7 separate regions of the Homo sapiens genome follow, and regions 1, 2, 3, 4, 6 and 7 are each reported to be linked to region 5. The links are microRNA targets in miRTarBase. Many come from high-throughput screens and were not tested one by one. Region 5 holds a microRNA gene; each other region holds the end of a gene's coding sequence.
The links. Region 5 holds the annotated microRNA hsa-miR-3136-5p (CUGACUGAAUAGGUAGGGUCAUU, at 1,354-1,376, opposite strand). A microRNA usually pairs through its seed, bases 2 to 8, with sites in the 3' UTR of a target mRNA and lowers its output. Matches are read on the target gene's strand: a 7mer-m8 pairs with bases 2 to 8, a 7mer-A1 pairs with bases 2 to 7 and ends in A, and an 8mer does both.

Region 1 (3,113 bases), not on the chromosome of region 5:
CTGGGGAGGATGCTCTGTTCTGGGTCTGACCCCTGCTCTGGGCTCTCTCTGCCCCAGGCTCAGCCACGGTGCTGGTGGCAGGGGGCTTTGCAGGCATTGCTTCCTGGGTGGCAGCCACGCCCTTAGACATGATCAAGTCCCGGATGCAGATGGATGGACTGAGACGCAGAGTGTACCAGGGGATGCTGGACTGCATGGTGAGCAGCATCCGGCAGGAAGGACTGGGAGTCTTCTTCCGGGGGGTCACCATCAACAGTGCCCGCGCCTTTCCCGTCAATGCTGTCACCTTCCTCAGCTACGAATATCTCCTCCGCTGGTGGGGATGAGCCCTGCGGCAATGCCAGCAGCTCCCCATCAGGCCCACGGCCTGGAGGCCAGTTTGAGATTGGAGGCCAGGTTGAAAGCTTGCAAATCAGTGCAAGAGGCTCAGCCCTTCCTAACCAAGGTGCCTCCCACCCGCGCAGATCTGGGCTGGGCAGACACCTGTGGGAGCCGGAAGCCAGGGGGCCTGTGCAGCCTCCCTGTGTAGCTGGCCTTGACTCCTTTGCCTCCCACATCTGTGAAACAGGGAGCATGAGGCACAAGTGAGCTGGCAAGTGGTGCTGGTGACATCCCAGCTCCTGTCCTGTGCCTTCACCTCTTTTTTTTTTTTTTTTTTTTTTTGAGATGGAGTCTTTCTCTGTCACCCAGGCTGGAATGCAGTGGCGTGATCTCGGCTCACTGCAACCTCCGCCTTTCCACCTTCCGGGTTCAAGCAACTCTCCTGCCTCAGCCTCCCAAGTAGCTGGGACTATAGGCGCCCGCCACCACACCCAGCTAAATTTTTGTATTTTTAGTAGAGACAGGGTTTCACCATGTCAGCCAGGATGGTCTTGATCTCCTGACTTTGTGATCCGCCCGCGTCGGCCTCTCAAAGTGCTGGGATTACAGGCGTGAGCCACCGCGCCCGGCTGCCTTCACCTCTTAAGGAGCTCTGAGACTCCACTTCTGAGAGTCCCTGCGGCCTCCCACCTCCCTGCCTTTCAAAGCTCTCTCCCCCATGACCCAGGATAACCCTATGTCTCCTCCCCCAGAATCCTTCAGTGGCTCTCATCACCTTCAGGAAAAGCCCAAACTCCTTCCACCCTCCAGGTTCCTCCCTCCCCACGAGGCTTTGTTCTCCTGGGGTTGCTTCCTGGACCCTGAACAAGTTGTGCTCTCATTGGCCGGGCCTGGCCAGCAGTGCACAGTGCCTGGCAGGTTGACTCTACCATCCCCGGGGCTGGCCCCGCTCTCCTCCGAGACCCAGGCTGAGCCCAGTCCCCTCACCCTTCCTTGACTTACCTCCCCACCTGAGGCTGACTTTGGGGTTCCCAGACACCCTACCCACACACATGCCTTGATCATAGCACTTGCCTGCGCTTCTTCAGAGTCATTAATTTGCTTCTCGGCTTCCCCACTGGACTGTGAGCTGCCTGAGGTCAGGGATTGCGCTTTGGATGGTTTCCAGCCTGAGCCTGGTGCTTGAACAGACGTGTGCAATAAATGCTCGTTAAATGATGCGACTGCACTCCTGACCTGTCTCTTCACGCCAGCTGCCACACCTGCTTCCCTGGTCTTGCCACACAGCTTTCTGTTGAACCTCCCAGCCCCCATTTTCCTGCTCTGACCCTTCTCGAGGTCACCTGCAGTGGAGGATGCTGGGAGCTGGGGGTCTGTCTGCTTTGCCCACTCCCAGCCAATGGTGCTTGTTTTCTTTTTCTTTTTCTCTATTTTTTCTTTTATTAGATACAGAGTCTCACTCTGTTGCCCAGGCTGGAGTGCAGTGGTGCCATTATAGCTCACTGTGGCCTTGAACTCCTGGACTCAAGTGATCTTCCCACCCTAGTCTTCTGAGTAGCTGGGACTACAGGTGTGTGCCACCGCACCTGGCTAATTTTTAATTTTTTTGTAGAGAGGAGGTCTCACTATGTTGCCCAGGCCGTCTTGAACTCCTGAGCACAGATAGCCCTCCCACCTTGGCCTCCCAAAGAGCTGGAGTTACAGGTGTGAGCCACTGTTGTTTTCTTTACCCATCTCACTTGCTCAGTGGGAATTAAAAACTGGCTGAGAGGGTTCTTTTAACTGACAACAAAATTGAGCATCAAGGGCCATTTGTACCCACTAATGTCCCTATCTGGTCTGAGATCAACGTGAGTCCACCTCATGGTGACCTGAATTCCTGCCATTTACTGGGGGCTCCCTGTAGAAACAATCACAGTGTTATGATCACAGTTGATAGAGAGGCAGCCTCGGCTCAGAGACATTATGTAACTTGTCCTAGGTCACACCGCGGGTAAATCATACAATTTGCTTAGATGCCTCTGAGCTTCCAGCCGCAGTGTCCAGTTACTTAGCTACCCTGCTCCACCTGGGCACATGGCTACCCTGCTCCACCTGGGCACATGGGGGTCTTCTGCGAGTCACCTAAGTTCAACTCCCCCCACACCACCCTGGGCTAGACCTGCCGGGACCATACTACGTCACGTGCTCATCAGAGCTCTCCTTCACCAGATCATGTGCTGCAGATGGCTGGAGGCCATCTGCAACTAGTTTTTGTATTTTTAGTAGAGATAGGGTTTCACCATGTTGGCCAGGCTGGCCTCGAACTCCTGGTCTTATGTGATCCACCCGCCTTGGCCTCCCAAAGCGTTGGGATTACAGGCGTGAGGCACCTGGCTCTGTCCTTGTTGCAACAGTTTAGGCCCTTGTTGCAACAGTTTAGCAAGCTTCATCCTGACTCAGTGGGTAAGGTACTGTGAGTTTCTAAGTCAGTGGTAATCCAAGTGTGGTCCATGGAGCAAAGCTTATTAGAAATGCAGCATCTGGCCAGACACAGTGGTTCACACCTGTAATTACAGCACTTTAGGAGGCCGAGGCAGGAGGACCACTTGAGGCTAGGAGTTCAAGACCAGCCTGGGCAACATAGTGAGACCTTGTATCTACCAAAAATTTAAACATTAGCCAGGTGTGGTGGCACTGTGCCTGTAGACAGAGCTGCTTGGGAGACTGAGGTGGGAGGACTGTTTGAACCTGGGAGGTTGAGGCTGCAGTGAGTTTTGATTGCGCCACTGTACTCCAGCGTGGGTGATGGA
Region 2 (3,113 bases), not on the chromosome of region 5:
CACACACTGCACCTACCTACTACCTCTCTTCCATGCTTAACTGGGTTTAGAAAGGTGAGCTATGCGTAGAAGAACTACTTGGGATATTCAAGTGCTGTATTTGAACGATAAGCCTATAGATAACAGTCTGAAGCTGCAAGGGAGACTTTGTTAGTACACTACTATAAACAGGTAAACTACCTGTTTGTACTTGATATAGTGCATATGAAATGACTGATTTAATACAAAACTACAGAACATGCAAAATTTTTTCTGAGATGTTAAGTATTACTTCAGTGGAGAACAAAACTTACTTAACCTTTCGCTAATGCATGTAGTACCAGAAAGCAAACATGGTTTTAGCTTCCTTTACTCAAAATATGAACATTAAGTGTTGTGAATTTGTCTGCCAAGTGGTTCAGAAATACATTATAAATAACCTAGTTAAAAAAAGAAACTGTGAACCATCTTGGTCAGTCTATTCTATTCTATGTTTATATGTTATTTTCTCAAGCAATCGCTTCATAATTATAGGGTTTACAAAAAGGTCGAGAAAGAAAAGCGAAGGCGAAATAGCCTCTACTGCATTACAAGCAACATCAGGATAAACTGTACAAAGAATCACATGGTTTCCATACCATGAATGTAGAAAGCAGACCAGGTTTAGGAATGATAGGACAATGCACTCTCTGCAATAGCCAACTACAACAAAACACTTTGAAAGTAAAGGTGAAAATTATATAAAGGGAAAAATTCAAGCCTTTAAATAGCATTATGTCAAGAGGTGAAAACAAAGGTATCAAAACACCCTGTTGCACTACGTTGATAGTTATAGACTGATAGAGTGCCCTCCATTTTCAATGAGGATGTCTCCATATTTTAGTTCAGTGATGTAATAAAGTACTGATTACTGATTTTTAACCCAACTCTTAATAGGCTGCATTAAGACAGCAAAATTAGCCAAATACAACAAAGTATTTAAACCACTACTTTGTGATTGTTTTCTTGGATGTAGGAAAATTACAGGGTTAGGCTAGTTGTAAGTGAAAAAGCCACAGGATTAAAAAAAGGACTCATGGGGAAAAATACACACACACACCCACACACACCTATACACCCACACACCCACATGCCAACCAACCAACCAACCAGCAACTGATCAGTAAAACTTGTTATTAACCAGGGTGACTGTTCTTGATAATAGATTAACCCTGCTGTAGAATGCTATGTTGCCTTTAAAAACCAATTCAATTATTATCCACAATCTGAGTATCAGTCCCTAACCCACCCTCCCCTAAAAATTTGAGGTACATTCAATTATTGCATGACTTGGTCTTAATATTTTTAGCAAGCTTATATGGATGGCAAGTCAAAGGAATCTTAATATTTTAAATGTAAGATATAAAATTTAAGCTTATATATTTTAATTAGCTGTACTGCTCATGAAATAAATATTTGGAAATATGTGTAAATATTTTCTGCAGGTCATAAGAACACCATTTTAGGGCACTGTATTCCAAGAACAGAGAATACATTTTGAAGTTGTCACACTTTATGTAATGCATGATTTATAAAAGCAACAAAAATATATTATGCAGGTGGGTTGGCATATGTTCAGCAGAAGCCTATCAACAACTCTGGGAAACCTGGTTACAAGTGTATTTTTGAAGGGATGGGGCTAAATTTGTCCAAACAGTAAATCTCACCCCAGTGATAGCTTTGGTGCAGTAAGTAATCAGCCTCCAAGATGGGTCTGAGAGAGGCATTTCAAAGAATGTTCCTTAATTCTCAACACATAACCAAGGTCAATCCATTCAAACAGCAAATAAAGAAAATCCATAGGTACTAAGATAACTGTTCTCTCTTCATATGATACTAACAGGCTTATGGCTATGATTCTATTTTTAAATCCCCTTTTACTACCAGCAGGAGTTTGAAAGTGTTTCAATGCTATATAAATGTATGAATCTAGAGGAGAAAAAAATATGCATACTGGAATGGTTTCTCCTTTAGACTTCCAAAACTTAAGATTTTATAAATAAAACTAGTCAGTTTTATCTAAAGAGACATGAAATCCATGTGAAAGGGGAGAGAAAATCCAAAGTTCAGTCATCCAGCAATTTAGGAGTGTGCCCCTCCTCACCTTAACTAAGCTTTCACATAAAGCTTAAAGTCACCGAGGAAAGATTTGGTCACCAACCTTATAGGCAGCGCTCTTAACTATGCCAGGAAATCCCCAGTAGAGTGCATTCTTAAGGCAGAAGGCTAGAGCTAATTGCTTATCTCAGCACCCTAAGTTTACATCACAGCAGCCACTACTGCTCAGACAGTTAGGGCTACCAAATATGTAGAGTTGGCCTTTGTAGAATCAGACCTTCAACACAATCTAATAAATTAGCTAGGGAGCTGAAAAGGTCAAATGTTACTGGTGTATTTTGTCTTTGCTCTCCCTTGGGTATAAGGTGTATATTTTATTAGAAAGGGAAGAGGCTTACTTGATCAGGAATCCCAGTAAAAGCCTGATCATGGTTCCTTTTGCCCCTCCTCCAAAACAATTTTTTTTTTCTGGTAGTCGGATTTGTTATGAATTTCTCTCTCCCCTCACCCCTCTTAAAGTATTTAGCTGAAGAAGCTGGCAGATAGAGAGTGACAGACAGACAGGCAGCAGTGTGAGGCCACAGGAGAGTCATTCTTCCGGAGTTATCAGTCCATCCATCCATCACTGGAGAAGAGCTTTGATTGCCTGGTTGTCAGTGGCTTCAAAGGCGGTCAGTCCATCTGGGCCTTTCACAGTCTTATCAGCACCCTGGAAAAGAGAGGAAAGGGCTCATTAAATGAGCCCACAACTGGGGGAAGGGAATGTAAGACTAGCTCACATGGCACAGGTTAATGTTTACATCAAGAATTAAAAATTCCTTTACTAGTGGAGTCTATTCTACTGCAGAAAAACAAACAAGTTGGCAACATTATGGATTAATTATAAAAATGCCACATTATTTTTCAGGCACTAAGAATTGTAACCCAGGCAATCACTGGCTTTTATTTATACTATCATGGATGAGATGATTAGGAAGAGCACGTTGAGCAAGTTAGATATATTTATCTAATTAGGCTTTAAAAATAATATCCCTATG
Region 3 (3,000 bases), not on the chromosome of region 5:
CAGAGCTTATGTTCCAAGGCCTGGGTGGGCCCTTGTCCCCTGCAACACAGGCCAGCGCCAACCCCCACCTGGTCTGGGCCTGATCAAGTGGGGAGAGGAGCCTTTGCAGGCTGAATTTTCGCAGCATGGACCCCTCCCCCGGCTGGCCTGACCTTCAGGGACACACACTGGCCCTTATCTGAACACAGGGTGGGCGGAGTCCCTGCCCTCTCCAAGGAACTGACTCACTGCTGTATCTCTGTTTGCTTTCATGCCTGCTGTGCTCAGCTGGCCCTCGGAGGGGAAGTGTGGCCGGCGTCAGCCCGTGGCCAGTACGGTGCCCGTCTGCCGCAGGGTGAATGGGGTCCTGCTCACAGACTTTCCTGCTGGGCTGGCCTCCTCCAGGAGCTGTCCTTGGGCGCTGGTGTCCTTGGGTTCAGCTAGTGTCTGGGCAGCAGTGCAGCCATGGACTCTGGCAGGGTCAGGCCTCTGGGTAGCCCTGGTTGTGGGTTCAGCAATGGGAGGTCTTGATTGAAGGCCACTGCCCTGGACCCAACCTTGGGTTTTTCCAGCCTGGTCATCAGGCCTCACAGCACCCAGGCATGGGGACGTGGGCCAGTCTGGGCCCCCTGGCCTGTTGGCGGCGGGGCTGTCCTGGGCTCTGCTCAGCGGCCAGAGCGGTCCAGGAGCACGAAGAGCAGTCCCAGCAGCAGGAGCGGCGTGAAGACCAGCAGCAGCCCCAGAAGCTCAAGGGCCAGCAGGCTCAGCAGCGCCAGGCGGCGGGCACAGGGTCCCCGCTCCCGCAGGGTCCAGAGCCGGGCACCCAGGCAGGGTGGACAGGGCAGGAAGGGCAGGCAGCCCCGGCCGCCCACGGGCCCTGCCAGGAAGCGCAGCTGGTAGCGGTGCTCCAGGGAGCCCCAGGGCCCAGGGTTGCGGTGATAGGATGCAGGGGCCTCTCGGCGGGGCTGGCGTGAGGGCCCGTCGGCCTGTAGCAGCTCCTCCTGTAGCCGGCAGATCTCCCATTCCAGCACGGGCGTCTTCTGGCGGCACAGCGGGCAGCGCACCCGGCCCAGGTCGGCACTGGAGGCCGAGCCCAGCAGCCTGTGCAGGCAGCCCACACACAGGCCGTGGCTACAGTTCAGCAGGGCCAGGCGGCGCTCTCTGGGCCCGTAGGGCTCTGTGCAGATCGGGCACTCCTCCTCTTCCCCCTGCCCTGCTGCCTGCTCTCTCCCCTCCTCCTTCCAGGTTGGAAGGGCCCAGGCACCCTCCATGGCTTTGGCCCCCAGCAGGGGCTCACTGGCTGTAGTCTCAGCACCTTGGGGGTGCCCAAGGTCATCCCCTTTGCTTGCTGGTGCTTGGCACAGAGGGTCCAGGCACTCAGGGCCCAGAGAGGACCCAGGTGGACTGACAGGCCCAGAGCTGGAGTCGGCCAGGTGGAGGGTGGGGGCCCCAGGGCACAGTTCAGGGGTGGTGGCCCTGGGGCAGGAGTCAGGATAGGAGGACAGGGACCCCAGGGCGGCGACAGGGGCGGCCCTCAGGGAAGGCAGGGTCTGGGCTCCACCAGAGCTCTGGCACTGACCTCCCGGCTGGCTCTCCTCACTGGAAGTGGACTTGACTGGGGCCCCAGCAAGGCCTGCCTGCTCTGGGTGGATCCTGGGCCCACGCGGTGCTGTCCCCAGCCAGATCTGGCTGGAGCCCAGCCTCAGCCATGTTTAGTCCTGTGCCAGCGACCCGCCGACGACAGATCAAGACTCCAAGACAGCGAGGCGGGTGTGAACAGCCACCGAACTCCTCCAACAGGACTTTCCTTCCCAGTGCCTAAAGCCCCTCCCGGGGGTGGGGCTGCACAACCACGCCCCCTCCTGCCGCTCCTCTTTCCGGCAGTCTCGGCTCCCTAGCGGCACGGACGGCTTGGTTCCGCCTTCCCAGCACCTGCCCAGAACGCAGTCCTGGCGATCAGATCTTAGCCGACCCACTATGCCCTTAAGAACGAGGCAGTCAGGGCGCACATCCCATTAGAGGCAGACATAAGAGCTGCAGAGGCCACTCGGGCACAGGCAGCCCAACAAGGGTGCACCGTGGCGCCCACCCATCCAGCACCCAGCACCCAGGGCACCGGGAGGAGCTAGAGGACGCCCACCCATCCAGCACCCAGCACCCAGGGCACCGGGAGGAGCTAGAGGACGCCCATCCATCCAGCACCCAGCACCCAGGGCACCGGGAGGAGCTAGAGGAAGGAAGGAAGCCTGCGCTAGAAGTAACCACCCAGAGGCCACCATTTACTGCAAGGGTTTTTCTGGGACCAGGAGAGGAAGAGGCTGCTCTGGCCTGGGACACCCCCACTGCTCTCAAGGAGCTGGCATCTCAGTGGCCTCTGAGCCCAGCCTGAGCCCTGTGGGAGTGCGGGGGCAGTGACTGGAATGTGCTGCTGGGCAGGCTGCAGCAGCCGAGGTGGCCCCAGGGCAGAGGAGTGCAGCGCAGCCTCATGGGTGCCCTATGCCACCCCTGGTGCTCACTGGGCTGCTGATGCCGTCCTGGGTCACTGCACCGGTGAGGTGGAGCGGCCCAGGCCACCACCTTGACTGGGAAGGGGGTGGGGGGACGAGGACACAGCTCACTGTCAGGGTGGGGGAGCGCAGGGCTGGCTGGGCAGAGGCTGCAGTGGGGTCAGGCTCAAAGGGTGGGATCCAGGGTCAACAGGAGTGCGGCTGTGCTCGGGAGCTGGCTGTTCCCAGAGGACCAGCTGGCTGGTCCGAGAGGATGACGGCTGCTGGCCAGGAGCTCCCTCGTGGATGCCTTCCTGGGCTCCCAGGAGGATGGCTGTCAGAGGGGGCACGGGCAGCCGCGGGCCTCAGGCCCACGTCTCTGTCTGGAAGCGCCGTGTCTGCTGGAGCCTGGCTAGATACGCGGCTGCGTCCGGGCTGCAGAGTCCACCCTCCTCCTGGAAGATGGACATCAGGGCTTCCGAGACGTCCGCTGGCATGGACTTGGCGTTGCTAGAGGGGCAGGTCGCAGAAGGCG
Region 4 (3,113 bases), not on the chromosome of region 5:
GGGCCAACAGATACAGGCAGGCAGCATGACCATGGCCTAGGAGTTAGCCCAGGGTTGGGGGGCTGCCCTGGCCTCAGCGCCTCTCCCTGAGAGGGTTCCTATCTTTGGCCCCCCGCCCGCAGCTGAAGGAGCAGAGGGAACGTGAGCGGTGGCAGCGGCAGCGGAAGGTCCTGGCTGCAGGCAGCTCGCTGGAGGAGGGAGGAGAGTTCGATGACCTGGTGTCGGCCCTGCGCTCTGGGGAGGTCTTCGACAAGGACTTATGCAAGCTCAAGCGCAGCCGCAAGCGATCAGGGAGCCAGGCCCTGGAAGTTACCCGGGAGCGGGCAATAAACCGGCTAAATTATTGACCTGGGGAACTAGCCACACAGGAGGCCGGGAGACAGGGACTGGTGAGAATGGGGCTGAGTGGAGGAGGTGGTGATATTTAAACCATTTGGTGCTTGGTTTAGAGCCTTGGGCTGGGTCCTGGGATGGGGGGCTGTGTGTGGCTGGACCAGGTGTCTCCCCACGCTTACCTTAAGGGGCTCCTCTTATCTCCCCTTCACATGATTCCTTCTGTGCCCTGGCCCCAGGTATTATTCTGAGGCTGCCTTGGATGGCCTCAGGCCAGGTAACCCCAGGCTGAAGGGGCCCTGCTCCCCATCCCCTACCATGGGCACCCATGTGCTGGCACAGAACAGTTCCAGATCTAGACTGGAGAGGTCCACAGCCTTGTCCAGAGTTCCTGTGTAGCACGGGGAGCAATGATGGAGGGAGCCCCTGAGAGGGAATCTGGTGAGGGAATCCAGACTCCCTTCTCTCAAGGGGAGGCTCAACAGAACATTGACCTGGGGGCAAACTTTCCTCTTGAATGGGAACAGAGGAGGCATTATATATTCTAGTTAGATCAGCTCTGGTAGGTTCCAGAGAACAGTCAATGTTGGAAGGATGATGCAGGGACCAAAGCCATCAGGACAGAGTAGCAGTGTCTGTTTCCCATGTCACAAGTCCTCTGGCCTCTCCCTGCATGTCTTAAGTATCTTTCCCTTCCTTCTCTACCCTCACCTCCATCCTGTCTACTAATCCACAGTCCTAGAAGACTCACCTTGGGTTTCCACAGCTATGGCTCACTACCAGGTGCTTGATGAATCTGGCGAGGGGCTCAAGACAGACCTCATGCATCACCACACCTCATGCCTTTTGGGCATCTCCCATGTCCCCATCTCCTGGACACCTGGCCATTGTTGTGAAGCCAGACAGTGACCTCAAATGTTGCCTTGGAGTCCCCTACAGCCCCTCAGCAGAGGGCAGCACTTGAATGCTTAGCTCCATCCCATAGTTCTCTACTTCATATAAATTGCTCAGGCCCTCCCACCCCTTCTCTAACACTAGCTTCAAGGCAGAAGCCACAGCAGCCTCTGTCCAGCCTGCAGGTGGCCACTTGGAACCATGTGTCCACTGGCGTTGGGGAGTTGGTTCCTGAGAGGTCTGAGGGCCAGAGCTGCCCTCTACATTAACATGCTGTCTCTAAGGGTGGCCCCTCCTCTCAGGCGTTCAGATGGTGCGAACAGCAGAGCAGGCAAGGGAAACTGGGGAGATGGGGATGGAGGAGGAAGGCTGATATCCTCTGGGGAGCACATCACCTGAAGGTGCCAAGGAGGAAGGCTGAGAGGGGGGCCACCCCATTTCTGGTACCCAATTTGGTTCTTCAGCCCAACTTGCAAGGGGTTCCTTCTGGTCCTCCCATCCACTGCCACCTTCCATTTTGTCCATCTCATGCTGGCCTTGGTGGATGGGATGGCTGTATCTAGACAAAATTTTTCTAAAACTCCATCAAGGCTCTTATTCAATACCACGTTCCGAGTTGGCCTTTCATCTTCTTTGAGACTGGCCCTGCCTAACCTCTACCATCAATGAGCTCTTGGCCCTTCTGCCCTTCCCTGTGTTTCTCACTTTCCAACCTAATCCCTGGCTCAGGGTTATTGCCAGTGGAGACTGGTGAGCTGGGCCTACTCTCAGCTGCCTATCTTCTGCCTTTCACTTGCATCCAACTCCTGGGGCTGGGACCGTAGTAGCTGCGGGGGGGAAGAAACACAGGGTCGGTGAGCCCAGCATGTGCGTTGGTTTGAGGGGGCGGGCGGTGTGTGTGTGTTCTGGTGGGAGGGATCTGAGCAAGTGCAAGCCTGGCTGACACAGGTGTGAAGAGGCCATCCTGGAACCCAGGTGAGGGCAAGATGAAGGCTTCCAGGCAGAACAGCTGCAGAGAGTTTGGCTATATGCATCTGCAGCCCCAAGAGCTCCCACTGCAAGACAAGTGTTGGGGAAGATGGGAGGTTGTGGGTGAGGCCTCTAAAGGTCCTCTCCCAAACTGACCAGGCTGATGTCAACCTAACCCCCTCAGGGGCAGGGAACAGGGGAGGGCTCCACAAGCGTGTCTGGCATTCCCACCCACCATGGAAGACTGGATACGCACCTGGAAACAAAAGGACTATGGAAGCTGTTCAAGATACATTTGATCTTCAGAAAAGCAGAATTTGGTTCAACTGTTGACAGAGGACACAAATACGTTGTTCCAGAGCTCAGCCTTCTCACTCTAAAAGAAAGATATTTTTCTATTTATTTTCTACATCTGGCCAGTGGCTCTGGTGCTAGATGCCACTGTAGCCAGATCTCCAACAGTGCCTTGGACCATGGACTCATACTCAACTGAGTAAGAAGGGGCTGGTGCCCAGTCGGGGTGGCTGAGCTGGTCCTTAATAGGTTGTTTCTTGGTCTTGCTTTCTTCATGCCCTCCCCACTGCTCCTGCCACCTTTAGATAAGTTTCTCTAGCTAATTTTGTGGCCAATGTAAAATTCGTCATCAACCTAACAAACACAACCTTCTCAGCAGCATTTCTCCCCTGTGATGGAAATAAAGTGTTTAGGGCAGTGGGAGGAGAAAATTCTCCAGGTGAATGGGGAAGGGTCTGTTCCAGCCTCTCCCTACTCCCATCCCATTTCCACCAACTGGGGAACTGTGACTATCTATCTCCCCCGACTTCTACCAGGGATGCCTTCACGCCAAGGCTGTTCTCACCAGCTGCCTCAGATGACAAATGAGGCTAATGGACATAATCTACAGTGTCCTTTTTCAC
Region 5 (3,113 bases):
CCTTGCCTGACAATTCATCATCTGAATTGATTTCACTTACACTCCGGCTATCTAATGACTGTACACTAAATGAGTCTATTCTTTCAAAAGCATCAGATGAACAGCAACTCTCAGTGAGTTTTTGGAAATCATCTAAACGATTATATTCAGGACAAGCAGATGCAGAGAGAAGCTGAAAAGATGTCTGCATCAAGTGAAGACTTGATTTTGAATCTGTAGTCTCTTGTCTCGAGCTCGCTGAGCTCTCACTTATTACACTTTCATGATCTAAAACTTCAATATCACTGGTGGTAGAAGTACCTGATGAAAAGGTACTAACAGGAGGAGAAGGTGTATTGCTCTGCCTGTCTTCATGTTTTTGTTCCTTAGGTTCCAAAGCTATGTCCTTTGTTTCTGCTGTGAGAGACTGCGTAGACGTATTAGATATACTTTCCATAGTTGTTTTCACATCAATTACACTTTCAGATACTTTCAAACTTACAGTTGGCACCTTCATATCCGATTCTTTATTAACAGTTTCTTCGTGCTTGCCTTCAGTTTTAGGTGATGAAGTACCTGCTGCCAGAGTTTCCCCTGAAACACACAAAGAAGAGTCTTTTACTTGTGATTCAGTTGTTTCAGGAGTTCTTGACTGGCCAATGTGCAAGGATTCATGTAAGCTGCTTTTCACTTCTTCTTCTGGTCGTTGTGATTTTGCTGGAGGTTTTGATACCACTGGACTCTTCTGAATGGTCTGGACATCAGTTGGCGAGAGAAAGGCACTGAAGAAATTTTCAGATTCATCGACCACAGTCCTCCGAACTGGCTTTGTGATTGCTTTAGGAGAGGCTATTGGTGGACTCTGAGGTTCAGTGTTTGATTTCAACCCCCAGGTTGAAGTATCCCATCCTCCACTGACAGGGGAACTTATTCCTTTAACAAAAAAGTAAATATTAAAAAAGAACACATATATGTTACATTAATATTTCAATCATCATTATAAATCAGTATAAATATAAATTTAGAAAAAATACCCTATGAAATACCTGTAATTTGCACCTGCTAAACTCCTTGCTTACTACATCATTAAGTAGTTTCCAAGTTAATACAGGGACTTACGGAAGAAAACTGGTGTGGGTCCACCTGAGAGGAAGGAGGAGCACAGACAAAAGACTGGGCCTGGCCTGGACTACCAGATGCGAGTATGTTATTCCTCCCCACAACAAATTAAGGAAGTAACAGTATATGTTTTATAACCCACAGTAAGTCCAAGATACCTATGATTCATCTCATAATAACACGCTTTACTTATCAATATGAAATAAACTAATATGGAACTAACTGAATAGGTTGGGCCATGTGCAGTCACAGAAAAATGACCCTACCTATTCAGTCAGTTTCATATTAATTTTTACTTGTAATATCAGTAATATAGTTATGAGCTAGACAAAGGGCAACACTCAAAAACTGAACTCAGTGGGTATGGAGGTTCACACCTATAATCCCAACACTAGAAGAGTCATTTGAGTCCAGGAGTTCAAGACAAGCCTGGGCAACATAGTGAGACCCCTGTCCCTACAAAAAAATTTTTTTAATTAGCTGGGCCTGGTGGCCCACATATGTGGTCCCAGCTACTCAGGAGGCTGAGGTGGGAAGATCATCTGAGCCCAGGAGGTGGAAGCTGCAGTGAGCCATGATCAAACCACTGCACTTCAGCCTGGGTGACAGATCGAGAACCTGTCTCGAAAACAAACAAAACAACAAAAGCCTCAAACCAAGATAATGGTGACAAATGTTCTTTCCCGAAGATCATATTAAACTGATGGGAATGGTAAGTTCTAGAGAACAAATTCATTTTCATCCACTTAATCACAGGCTGATTCTCTAAATCCCACTCTCCAAGCCCACTCTAAGAGGAAGTTTTGTTCTCAAATTCTAAATTATGTCAGAAATTACAAGGTCATTATAAATTTCAGAAATGTGTGTTTTTTTAAGAACTATTGCTCTTTGACATAGAGGTGGTTGACACTAGGGTTTTTAAAAAAGCGCTACAAAGAAAATGACTGTTTTCTTGGGGAAAAAGTTAATTATCATATCAGTCATACAAATAGCTACTACTAAAATCCTGATTTTTAAAAATGGCATAATCAGGATCTTAAAAATGGTATATTCGTTAAAGTATTTAAAGCATTTCTTTAAAAATGTTTTCTTTTTCAAATTAAAATGTGGCTGAACAAAATATTCACAAAATATTCACAATTAGAAGTTGGTGGAGAGAGCACAAGTAACTAAAAGCTTCTAAAAACTATCAAGCCTTATAGTAGAATCTATCCTTTAATATGACTTCAGGCCAGGCGCAGTGGCTCACGCTTGTAATCTCAGCACTTTGGGAGGCCGAGGCGGGCGGACCACCTGAGGTCAGGAGTTCAAGACCAGCCTGGCCAACATGGTAAAACCCTGTCTCTACTAAAATTACAAAAATTAGGCAGGTGTGGTGACGCAAACCTGCAATCCCAGCTACTCGGGAGGTTGAGGCACGAGAATCACTTGAGCTCAGGAGACAGAATCTGCAGTGAACAGAGATGGCACCACTGCACTCCAGCCTGGATGACAGAGTGAGACTGTGTCTCAAAAAAAAAAAAAACAAAAAAACAAATATATATATATGTAAATATATGTATGACTTCAAAGGCAGTTAGGATGAAAAGTATGTAGAAAACTTCAGTTTGGAGGCATAGTTCTACACATTCATTTGCACAATATCCAAACCAGAGAAAATCAAAATTAAATATGCAAATGAACAACCAAGATTATGTCTGATTAATTTAAATACATTCAAAAGATGACAGGAATTAATTTTGCCTCTTGGAGAATACTTTATATAATCCCAGGGTTATTTGGTATCCATCTAAATTATACCATTCTGAAGACTATGGGCATTTTCCGAAAACAAATATCCTTATATGTAAAACCTATATTCTATCTTATCTAAAGTTTAGTAATTCTAATTAACTGGGGCACATATGAAAAAACAGAGTTACTCCAGCAAGGTTATATGACATCTTGTAAAAAGTAAAGAGGATCATCACATACACACATGGACCAAAATATCTTAAACTGAGGTACCTCAAATT
Region 6 (3,104 bases), not on the chromosome of region 5:
TTGGGCAACACTTCTCCGTGCTTATTTGAACTGTTGCCCAACATATGGGATTTGTTTAAACACATGATTTGCTAATCCAACAAAAGTACAGTTGTTGTAAGTTACTGTAAATCAGTTTTTAACAATGGCAAACCAACTGTTTTACCCTGTTATTGTTCAGAATCATCAATACTATTGTATATGTGTACGTAGGTAGATGTGTGCAGCATGCGGCAGGTTTGCCAGGTCCTCCAGTTATAGAAAGCATGGAATCTGGGCAGACTTGTTCTCTGCAAGAAAGGGAAGCTCTTAAAATTAACAGGCATACTGACACTGGAAGCATCTACTACAACCCTCACCTCAGTTACATGGTCCCTGGTCCTATTAAAGGAAATGACACACCTGTAGCAGTACGAGGTGTCTGCGTGGAGGTTGCTTGTAGGAGAACAAGTGCAATTTGATCAGTTTCTCACTGCTCTACTGAGCTGATAATTAGCCTTTAAAACACATTCAAGTGGGGGGAAAAAGTAAATTAGAATGTAGAAAGCCTTTATCATATCATACTCAAATCTTTTGCTTAGATGAGCAGTTCCTTCATCACAAACGTCTTTGCTTTGCCATGTGCATTACAAAAATAAAACTAACTATGGCTTGCTTAAAGTGCCATTTTATAAAGTTGTCTTTTTTAATTAGCCAGAAAGACCCAATTTTATCCATGGCAAGAAGTGAGCAGAATTGGTGACTGAATATTGACAAATGACCAACAACAAAGACAACAACAACAACAAAACATCCCATAATTTAAAAATTTTTAAATAAATATAAAAGTTATTCCTAAAGAAGCCATCTGCATAACAATATAGGTTGTAACCTGCACTCAACAGCTAAAGTACCATTGGAAGAAAAGAAAAAACTGAAACAAGAAGGCCATAAACAGTTTCGGCAACAAGCATGATACATTGCAACCTTTTTAAAATTAAATGTACACCACTAGGAATAAAAAGCTACTTCTCAAGTGTGTCCTGGGAGATAAGGTGATGGGGGGGGGAATTGGGGGGAGGAGGGAAAACATGCATAGAAAGTCCTGTCTGAGTTTTGGGGTAAAACAGCCTTGACAAGTGTGAAGTAGCTGACTCAGGAAAGCAACCAGATGGGAAGCTGTGACGTAATGTGATGAACTCCAGGTTCAAGAGTCACACATGTTGTAAGAGTGCATCCCGGGCCGGCCGAGGCGAGCCAAGCTCACTGTGGTGATCACGAAGATGCCATTTTCAGCTCTTAGCAACACAGGGAAAGCTCTAGGGAAAGGAAGCTGCAGAAGACAATTAAGCAACATGATGGATGCCTTCTGGGGAGATTTTCTTCTTTAAGGGCCCTAAGCATTGCAACAGGGCTGAGTTCCATGAAGAAGTTGGTTGCTTTTCGGATGTAAAATTTTGTTCGGATGTAAAATTTCAGGTCATCATAAAAATTATGCCAAAAAGGAAAGATCTGGGTTTTCATTAAAAAACAAAATAAAAACAATTAAAAGCGCAAACTTGGCATAAATACACTCTTAAGAAAGACAGTAGCTTTACCCTCAAAAGAGGGAGCAAAAGAGAACCATCACTTAAACCCCCAGCTCCACAGCCATCTCCCGCCAACTGCTTAATGCAAGTTTGATGAGCACATGTGGCTCTGGCTTTGGAAGTCACAGTACTGGCGGGTGTTGGTGCCAGGGGGTCAGTGCTTGTGAAATTTGGGTGTGATATCACCTGGCCCTTTCTTAAAGCACTGTGTGTGTGTTTATGGGTGTGTGCATGTGTGTGCCTGTGTTTGCATTTGGGGACATCAACTGCAGATTGATTTGATCCAATTTTCTCTTGCACCATACACATATAAAACATTACAACTCTATAAAAGTACAAGTGCAACTTGTACATCTGAAGTTTGCAGGAACTATGTGAGCAAATCCTATCAAAATAGCTATCTCATATGTATAAACAGCATTTGTTTTTAGAAAAACAATATCATAAACTGCAGAATCTGTACAAAAATATAAAATAAATTTGGGCAGCAGTTTTCTAAACAGCCATGTAAATGCAACACTTACGAGGAGTAGTTAATGCCTCTAAAAAGGCCGAATTGCCAAGTCAACCTATACAGGGCAAAAATGCCAGAAAAGGTACTGAGATTATCTAAATAAGATATATATATATAGTTTTCTTCTTTACCTCTTGCAATAAAACTTATAGAAAAAATAGACAAATATGCACATGCAATTTACAGCTTTTCCAACTTAATCCTTGTGCTTCACTTGAACTGTTTATTTTTGTCATTCAACATTGCAACATTGTCTTCAAATGGATTCTTTCCTATACCAGGGTAGTAGGTCTCTGAGGAACCACTCAAAAAAGTGTATTAAAAGTGGTCATACTTGGATGAAGGCACTCCAACTCTGCTCAAAGCAAAAACTAGTGTGATCCTGTTGTAAAATTTTCTTTTTCTCTGAAAAAGGCAAGCAAGGGTGCATGCACAGTGTGGAGAACTGTCAGGGTTATGGGAACGCTCTGGGGTCTGGGTGGGCATAGTCGCTGGGTCCCTGGGTCTTAGGACCCAACAAGCACCTCCATGATGTGGTCCAGCTCTGTGAGGTCCATTTTGAAAGGCTGACTTGGGGTGACAGGCTGACTGCTGTAAGGAGCCAGAGTTTTGAGGAGGTCGTCGGCAGACACAGGGGCCATTTTTGAGGCTGTCCCTGATGAGGAAGTGCAGGGGTCAAAATCATACATGGACGTATCAATGTCAGCAAACAGGATGTCATCCAGGGTCAAGTCTGTCAGGAAACCCGTGGACGTCGTTATTTCAAAATTCCCAGGCAGAGAGTCCATCAGTTTTGAGTCATCTGCGCGGCTCTCTTGAGGACCGTCGAGTTTCTGGGTGCCAGCCTCGCTGGAGGTCCCTTTCACACTGTCAGTCGCAGCCGTGGCCGCCTCTGTGGAGGTAGATGTGGGACAGAGCTCCTCGATCTCGTCCAAGGCAGAGGAGAAACTGTCCTTTTCTGGCAAGAGGGCTGGAGGTGACAGTTTGGTGGGAGCCGTGGGCTGCATGGCCTGGGAGGTGCAAAACGTGTCATCGTCGTCCTC
Region 7 (3,000 bases), not on the chromosome of region 5:
AGATTCCCTCACTTTTGCCCCCAGAAACTGCATCGGGCAGGCGTTCGCCATGGCTGAGATGAAGGTGGTCCTGGCGCTCACCCTGCTGCACTTCCGCATCCTGCCGACCCACACTGAACCCCGCAGGAAACCCGAGCTGATATTGCGCGCAGAGGGTGGACTTTGGCTGCGGGTGGAGCCCCTGGGTGCGAACTCACAGTGACTGTCCTACCCACCCACCCACCTCTGTAGAGTCCCAGAAACAAAACTATGCTGACACCTCTGCTTGAGCCTCGTTGACAGCCAGCATGGGGCTCCTGGGGACTGGTGGGATCTAAGAAAGGGAGGTGAGTGGGTGGAGGCAGGGTGACGTCTCTGAACCCAAAACCCTGACGGCCTCTCTGGCTGAGCACAGGGCATCTAGGCCCTTAGTGGGTTCTCCCAGAGCCCAAGTAAAAACTTTATCCTGTGGGCAGTAGGGAGCCCTGGGAGGTGTTTGAGCAGGAGAGGGAACAGGATTAAGAATGGGTTTAAGGAGCAAGACTGAGACTCTGATTCAGCGAGAAACAACCATAGGGGCAGATCCCTTCATCTGTCCTGGGAATGTCCTCCCAAGACTGGAGTCCTCAGCTCAGAACAAAGGGAAAGGGGTGCAGCTTCCACCCTGGCAGGCTCTCAGAAATTTTTAGTTCCTTTTTCCACCAACTTCCCACCCCTGTTTCTCCCCCTCCCAGTGCGTTCTCTCTGTGACTCTCTTCCCTTACTTTCAGAGGCATAGGATCTGGAGCCAGACTGCTTGGGCTCAAGTCCTGGCTCTGCTGCGTGACTTGAGCAAGTTAATTCCTCTCTCTGTGCCTCGGTTCCCTCAACCATATAATGGAGACAACAGCATTACCTATATCAGGGTTTTCCTGAGGTCTCAATATAAGGGACTCAGAGCTGTGCCTGGCACACAATGAATGCTAAATATATGGAGCCATTATTATTTCCTGTCTCAGAAAGTCTGGCTGTTAAAGAATGTTGTCTTTCAAGATCGTTATTTCTACCACGACTTTAAAGGCTGTGTTTTGGAACTCAAAGGCAAAAATTCTAATATCTGTGCTCCTTGAACAACCTCTTCTCCTAGAGGGCTGTGCATATAAGATATGTATATATATATATATATTATATATATATATATATACACACACACACACACACACACACACATATATACATATACACACACACACACACACACACACACACACACACACATATATATATATATATATTTTTTTTTTTTTCCTGAGGATGGTGAAGGTACCTGACTGTGTGAGGTGGTAGGAGAATGAGAGAAACCTCAGTCAGTGTCTCAAAATAAAATCCTGCTACAAACATTGATCTCTTTTCATAGCCTAAGGGATGTTGCATCGCTAAACCCTGTTGACTTCTCTAATCTCTTCTGTAGCTGATCTCCTTCCCTTGCTACACTCGGTTACTCTGGCCTTGATTCTGATCTCCAAATACATTATATTTTTTATTTGGGACCATCGTATTGCCTTTGCACCTTTATCAAATATAAGTTGCCTATATTTATTTGGATCTATTTTTTGGGCTTTTAATATTCTGTTCCATTGACCTATTTCTCTTTTCTTTTACCAATACCGCAACATCTTGGTTACTGTAGCTTCACGGTAAGTCTTAAAACTTGGATATTGTCAGTCCTCCAACTATGTTCTACTCCTTCAATATTGTGTTGGTTATTCTGAGTCTTTTGTCTCTCCATATAAATTGTAGAATTAGATTGCTGATATCCATAAAAAAACTTTCTGGAGGGCCCCAGGGAGCGCGGGGCGCCGCTGCTGCTGCTGCTGCTCCTCGGCTGGGTTGTGTCTACTGGGCCCGCGGCTGCGGCGGCAGAGGGGCCTGAGCCGGGAGCCGCGCTCAGCCGAGAGTTGGGCAGAGGGAGTGCCCGCGCCGCCGCGGCGTCATGGGCCCCCTCCCCTCACCTCAGCGGGCACCAGCCGCGGGAACCCCCGGGCCTCCTCGCGCCCGAGCCTGAGCGACCCCTGGGTTCTCCGGCGCCCCCTCCCTCCCCCTATTTTTCTTTTCCTGCTCTTGCTGACCCTACCGCTTCTGTTCTCCGTTATGGCAAGAGAGCCACCATCCCCGCTCCGGGTCGAGGCGCCGGGTCCCCCAGAAATGCGGACCCCACCGGCGATCGAGGCCACCCCTAAGGGCACCCTGCAGCCGGCAGGCGGCAGACTCCGCTTCCTCAGTGGCTGTGTGCCCATCTTGCATCAGGTGGCCGGGCACAGGTATGGGAAGGACAAAATGGGTATACTGCAACATCCAGATGGCACAGTTTTGAAACAGTTACAACCACCTCCAAGGGGCCCAAGAGAGCTGGAATTCTATAATATGGTTTATGCTGCTGACTGTACCGATGGTGTTCTTCTAGAGCTACGACAATATTTGCCAAAATATTATGGCATCTGGCCACCTCCCGCTGCCCCAAACGATTTATACCTAAAACTGGAAAATGTGACCCATAAATTTAATAAGCCCTGTATAATGGATGTAAAGACAGGGCAAAAAAGCTATGATCCTTTTTGCCTCATCTGAGAAAATTCAGCAATAGGTCAGCAAGGACCCATTAATGGAAGAGATTGGGTTCTTGGTGCTTGGCATGAGGGTTTATCTTGTTCATTCCCATAGCTATGAGACACAAACCAACATTATGGAAGAAGCTTAACAAAAGAAGCTATAAAGGATGGAGTCTTCGGATTTTTTCATAATGGGTACTGCTTAATAAAAGATGCTGTTGCTGCCATTATTCAGAAGACTGAGAAAATTCTGCAGTGGTTTGAAAACCAGAAGCAGCTTAACTTTTACGCAAGTTCATTACTGTTTCTTTAGGAAGGTTCATCTCAGCCAATCACTACAAAACTGAATGACAGAAATTTGGCAGAAAAGTTTTTGTCCAAAGGACAACTGTCAGACACAGAAGTACTAGAGTGCAATAATAACTTTCATGTA

Region 1: the mRNA of SLC25A45 is a reported target of hsa-miR-3136-5p. The part of its 3' UTR that is shown has no 7-base or 8-base seed match.
Region 2: miRTarBase lists MTPN as a target of hsa-miR-3136-5p. Seed matches in the 3' UTR shown: 7mer-m8 at 211-217.
Region 3: the mRNA of NDOR1 is a reported target of hsa-miR-3136-5p. Seed matches in the 3' UTR shown: 7mer-A1 at 2,558-2,564 and 7mer-A1 at 1,591-1,597.
Region 4: miRTarBase lists DAAM2 as a target of hsa-miR-3136-5p. Seed matches in the 3' UTR shown: 7mer-A1 at 911-917.
Region 6: the mRNA of SERTAD2 is a reported target of hsa-miR-3136-5p. Seed matches in the 3' UTR shown: 7mer-m8 at 719-725.
Region 7: miRTarBase lists CYP4F11 as a target of hsa-miR-3136-5p. Seed matches in the 3' UTR shown: 7mer-m8 at 1,322-1,328.

Annotation. Positions count from the first base shown.
Region 1 is chr11:65,373,620-65,376,732 of GRCh38, reverse strand. It overlaps SLC25A45 (solute carrier family 25 member 45), which reads left to right. Exons shown (of 7, transcript NM_182556.4): 7 at 58-1,541. The coding sequence ends at 326. It also overlaps a transcript of FRMD8 not described here. Among named protein-coding and RNA genes, the nearest start is that of SLC25A45, 7.5 kb to the left of the region's middle. RefSeq lists an enhancer at 1-108.
Region 2 is chr7:135,927,228-135,930,340 of GRCh38, forward strand. MTPN (myotrophin) reads right to left here. Exons shown (of 4, transcript NM_145808.4): 4 at 1-2,785. The coding sequence ends at 2,699. Among named protein-coding and RNA genes, the nearest start is that of MTPN, 49 kb to the right of the region's middle.
Region 3 is chr9:137,216,247-137,219,246 of GRCh38, reverse strand. It overlaps NDOR1 (NADPH dependent diflavin oxidoreductase 1), which reads right to left. Exons shown (of 14, transcript NM_014434.4): 14 at 1-2,975. The coding sequence ends at 2,831. LOC122513141 (ring finger protein-like) reads right to left here and starts at 1,753. Exons shown (of 1, transcript NM_001395982.1): 1 at 1-1,753. The coding sequence starts at 1,250. The coding sequence ends at 645. RefSeq lists enhancers at 1-562, 563-1,302, 1,303-2,042 and a silencer at 1,706-1,883.
Region 4 is chr6:39,901,691-39,904,803 of GRCh38, forward strand. It overlaps DAAM2 (dishevelled associated activator of morphogenesis 2), which reads left to right. Exons shown (of 25, transcript NM_001201427.2): 25 at 123-3,113. The coding sequence ends at 347. It overlaps MOCS1 (molybdenum cofactor synthesis 1), which reads right to left. Exons shown (of 11, transcript NM_001358530.2): 11 at 2,480-3,113. Among named protein-coding and RNA genes, the nearest start is that of DAAM2-AS1, 5.9 kb to the left of the region's middle.
Region 5 is chr3:69,047,651-69,050,763 of GRCh38, forward strand. MIR3136 (microRNA 3136) reads right to left here and starts at 1,385; the gene lies at 1,308-1,385. It overlaps TMF1 (TATA element modulatory factor 1), which reads right to left. Exons shown (of 17, transcript NM_007114.3): 2 at 1-912.
Region 6 is chr2:64,633,360-64,636,463 of GRCh38, forward strand. It overlaps SERTAD2 (SERTA domain containing 2), which reads right to left. Exons shown (of 2, transcript NM_014755.3): 2 at 1-3,104. The coding sequence ends at 2,568. Among named protein-coding and RNA genes, the nearest start is that of SERTAD2-AS1, 2.0 kb to the right of the region's middle.
Region 7 is chr19:15,910,934-15,913,933 of GRCh38, reverse strand. CYP4F11 (cytochrome P450 family 4 subfamily F member 11) reads left to right here. Exons shown (of 12, transcript NM_021187.4): 12 at 25-1,557. The coding sequence ends at 202. It also overlaps the pseudogene LOC729654. Among named protein-coding and RNA genes, the nearest start is that of CYP4F2, 14 kb to the right of the region's middle.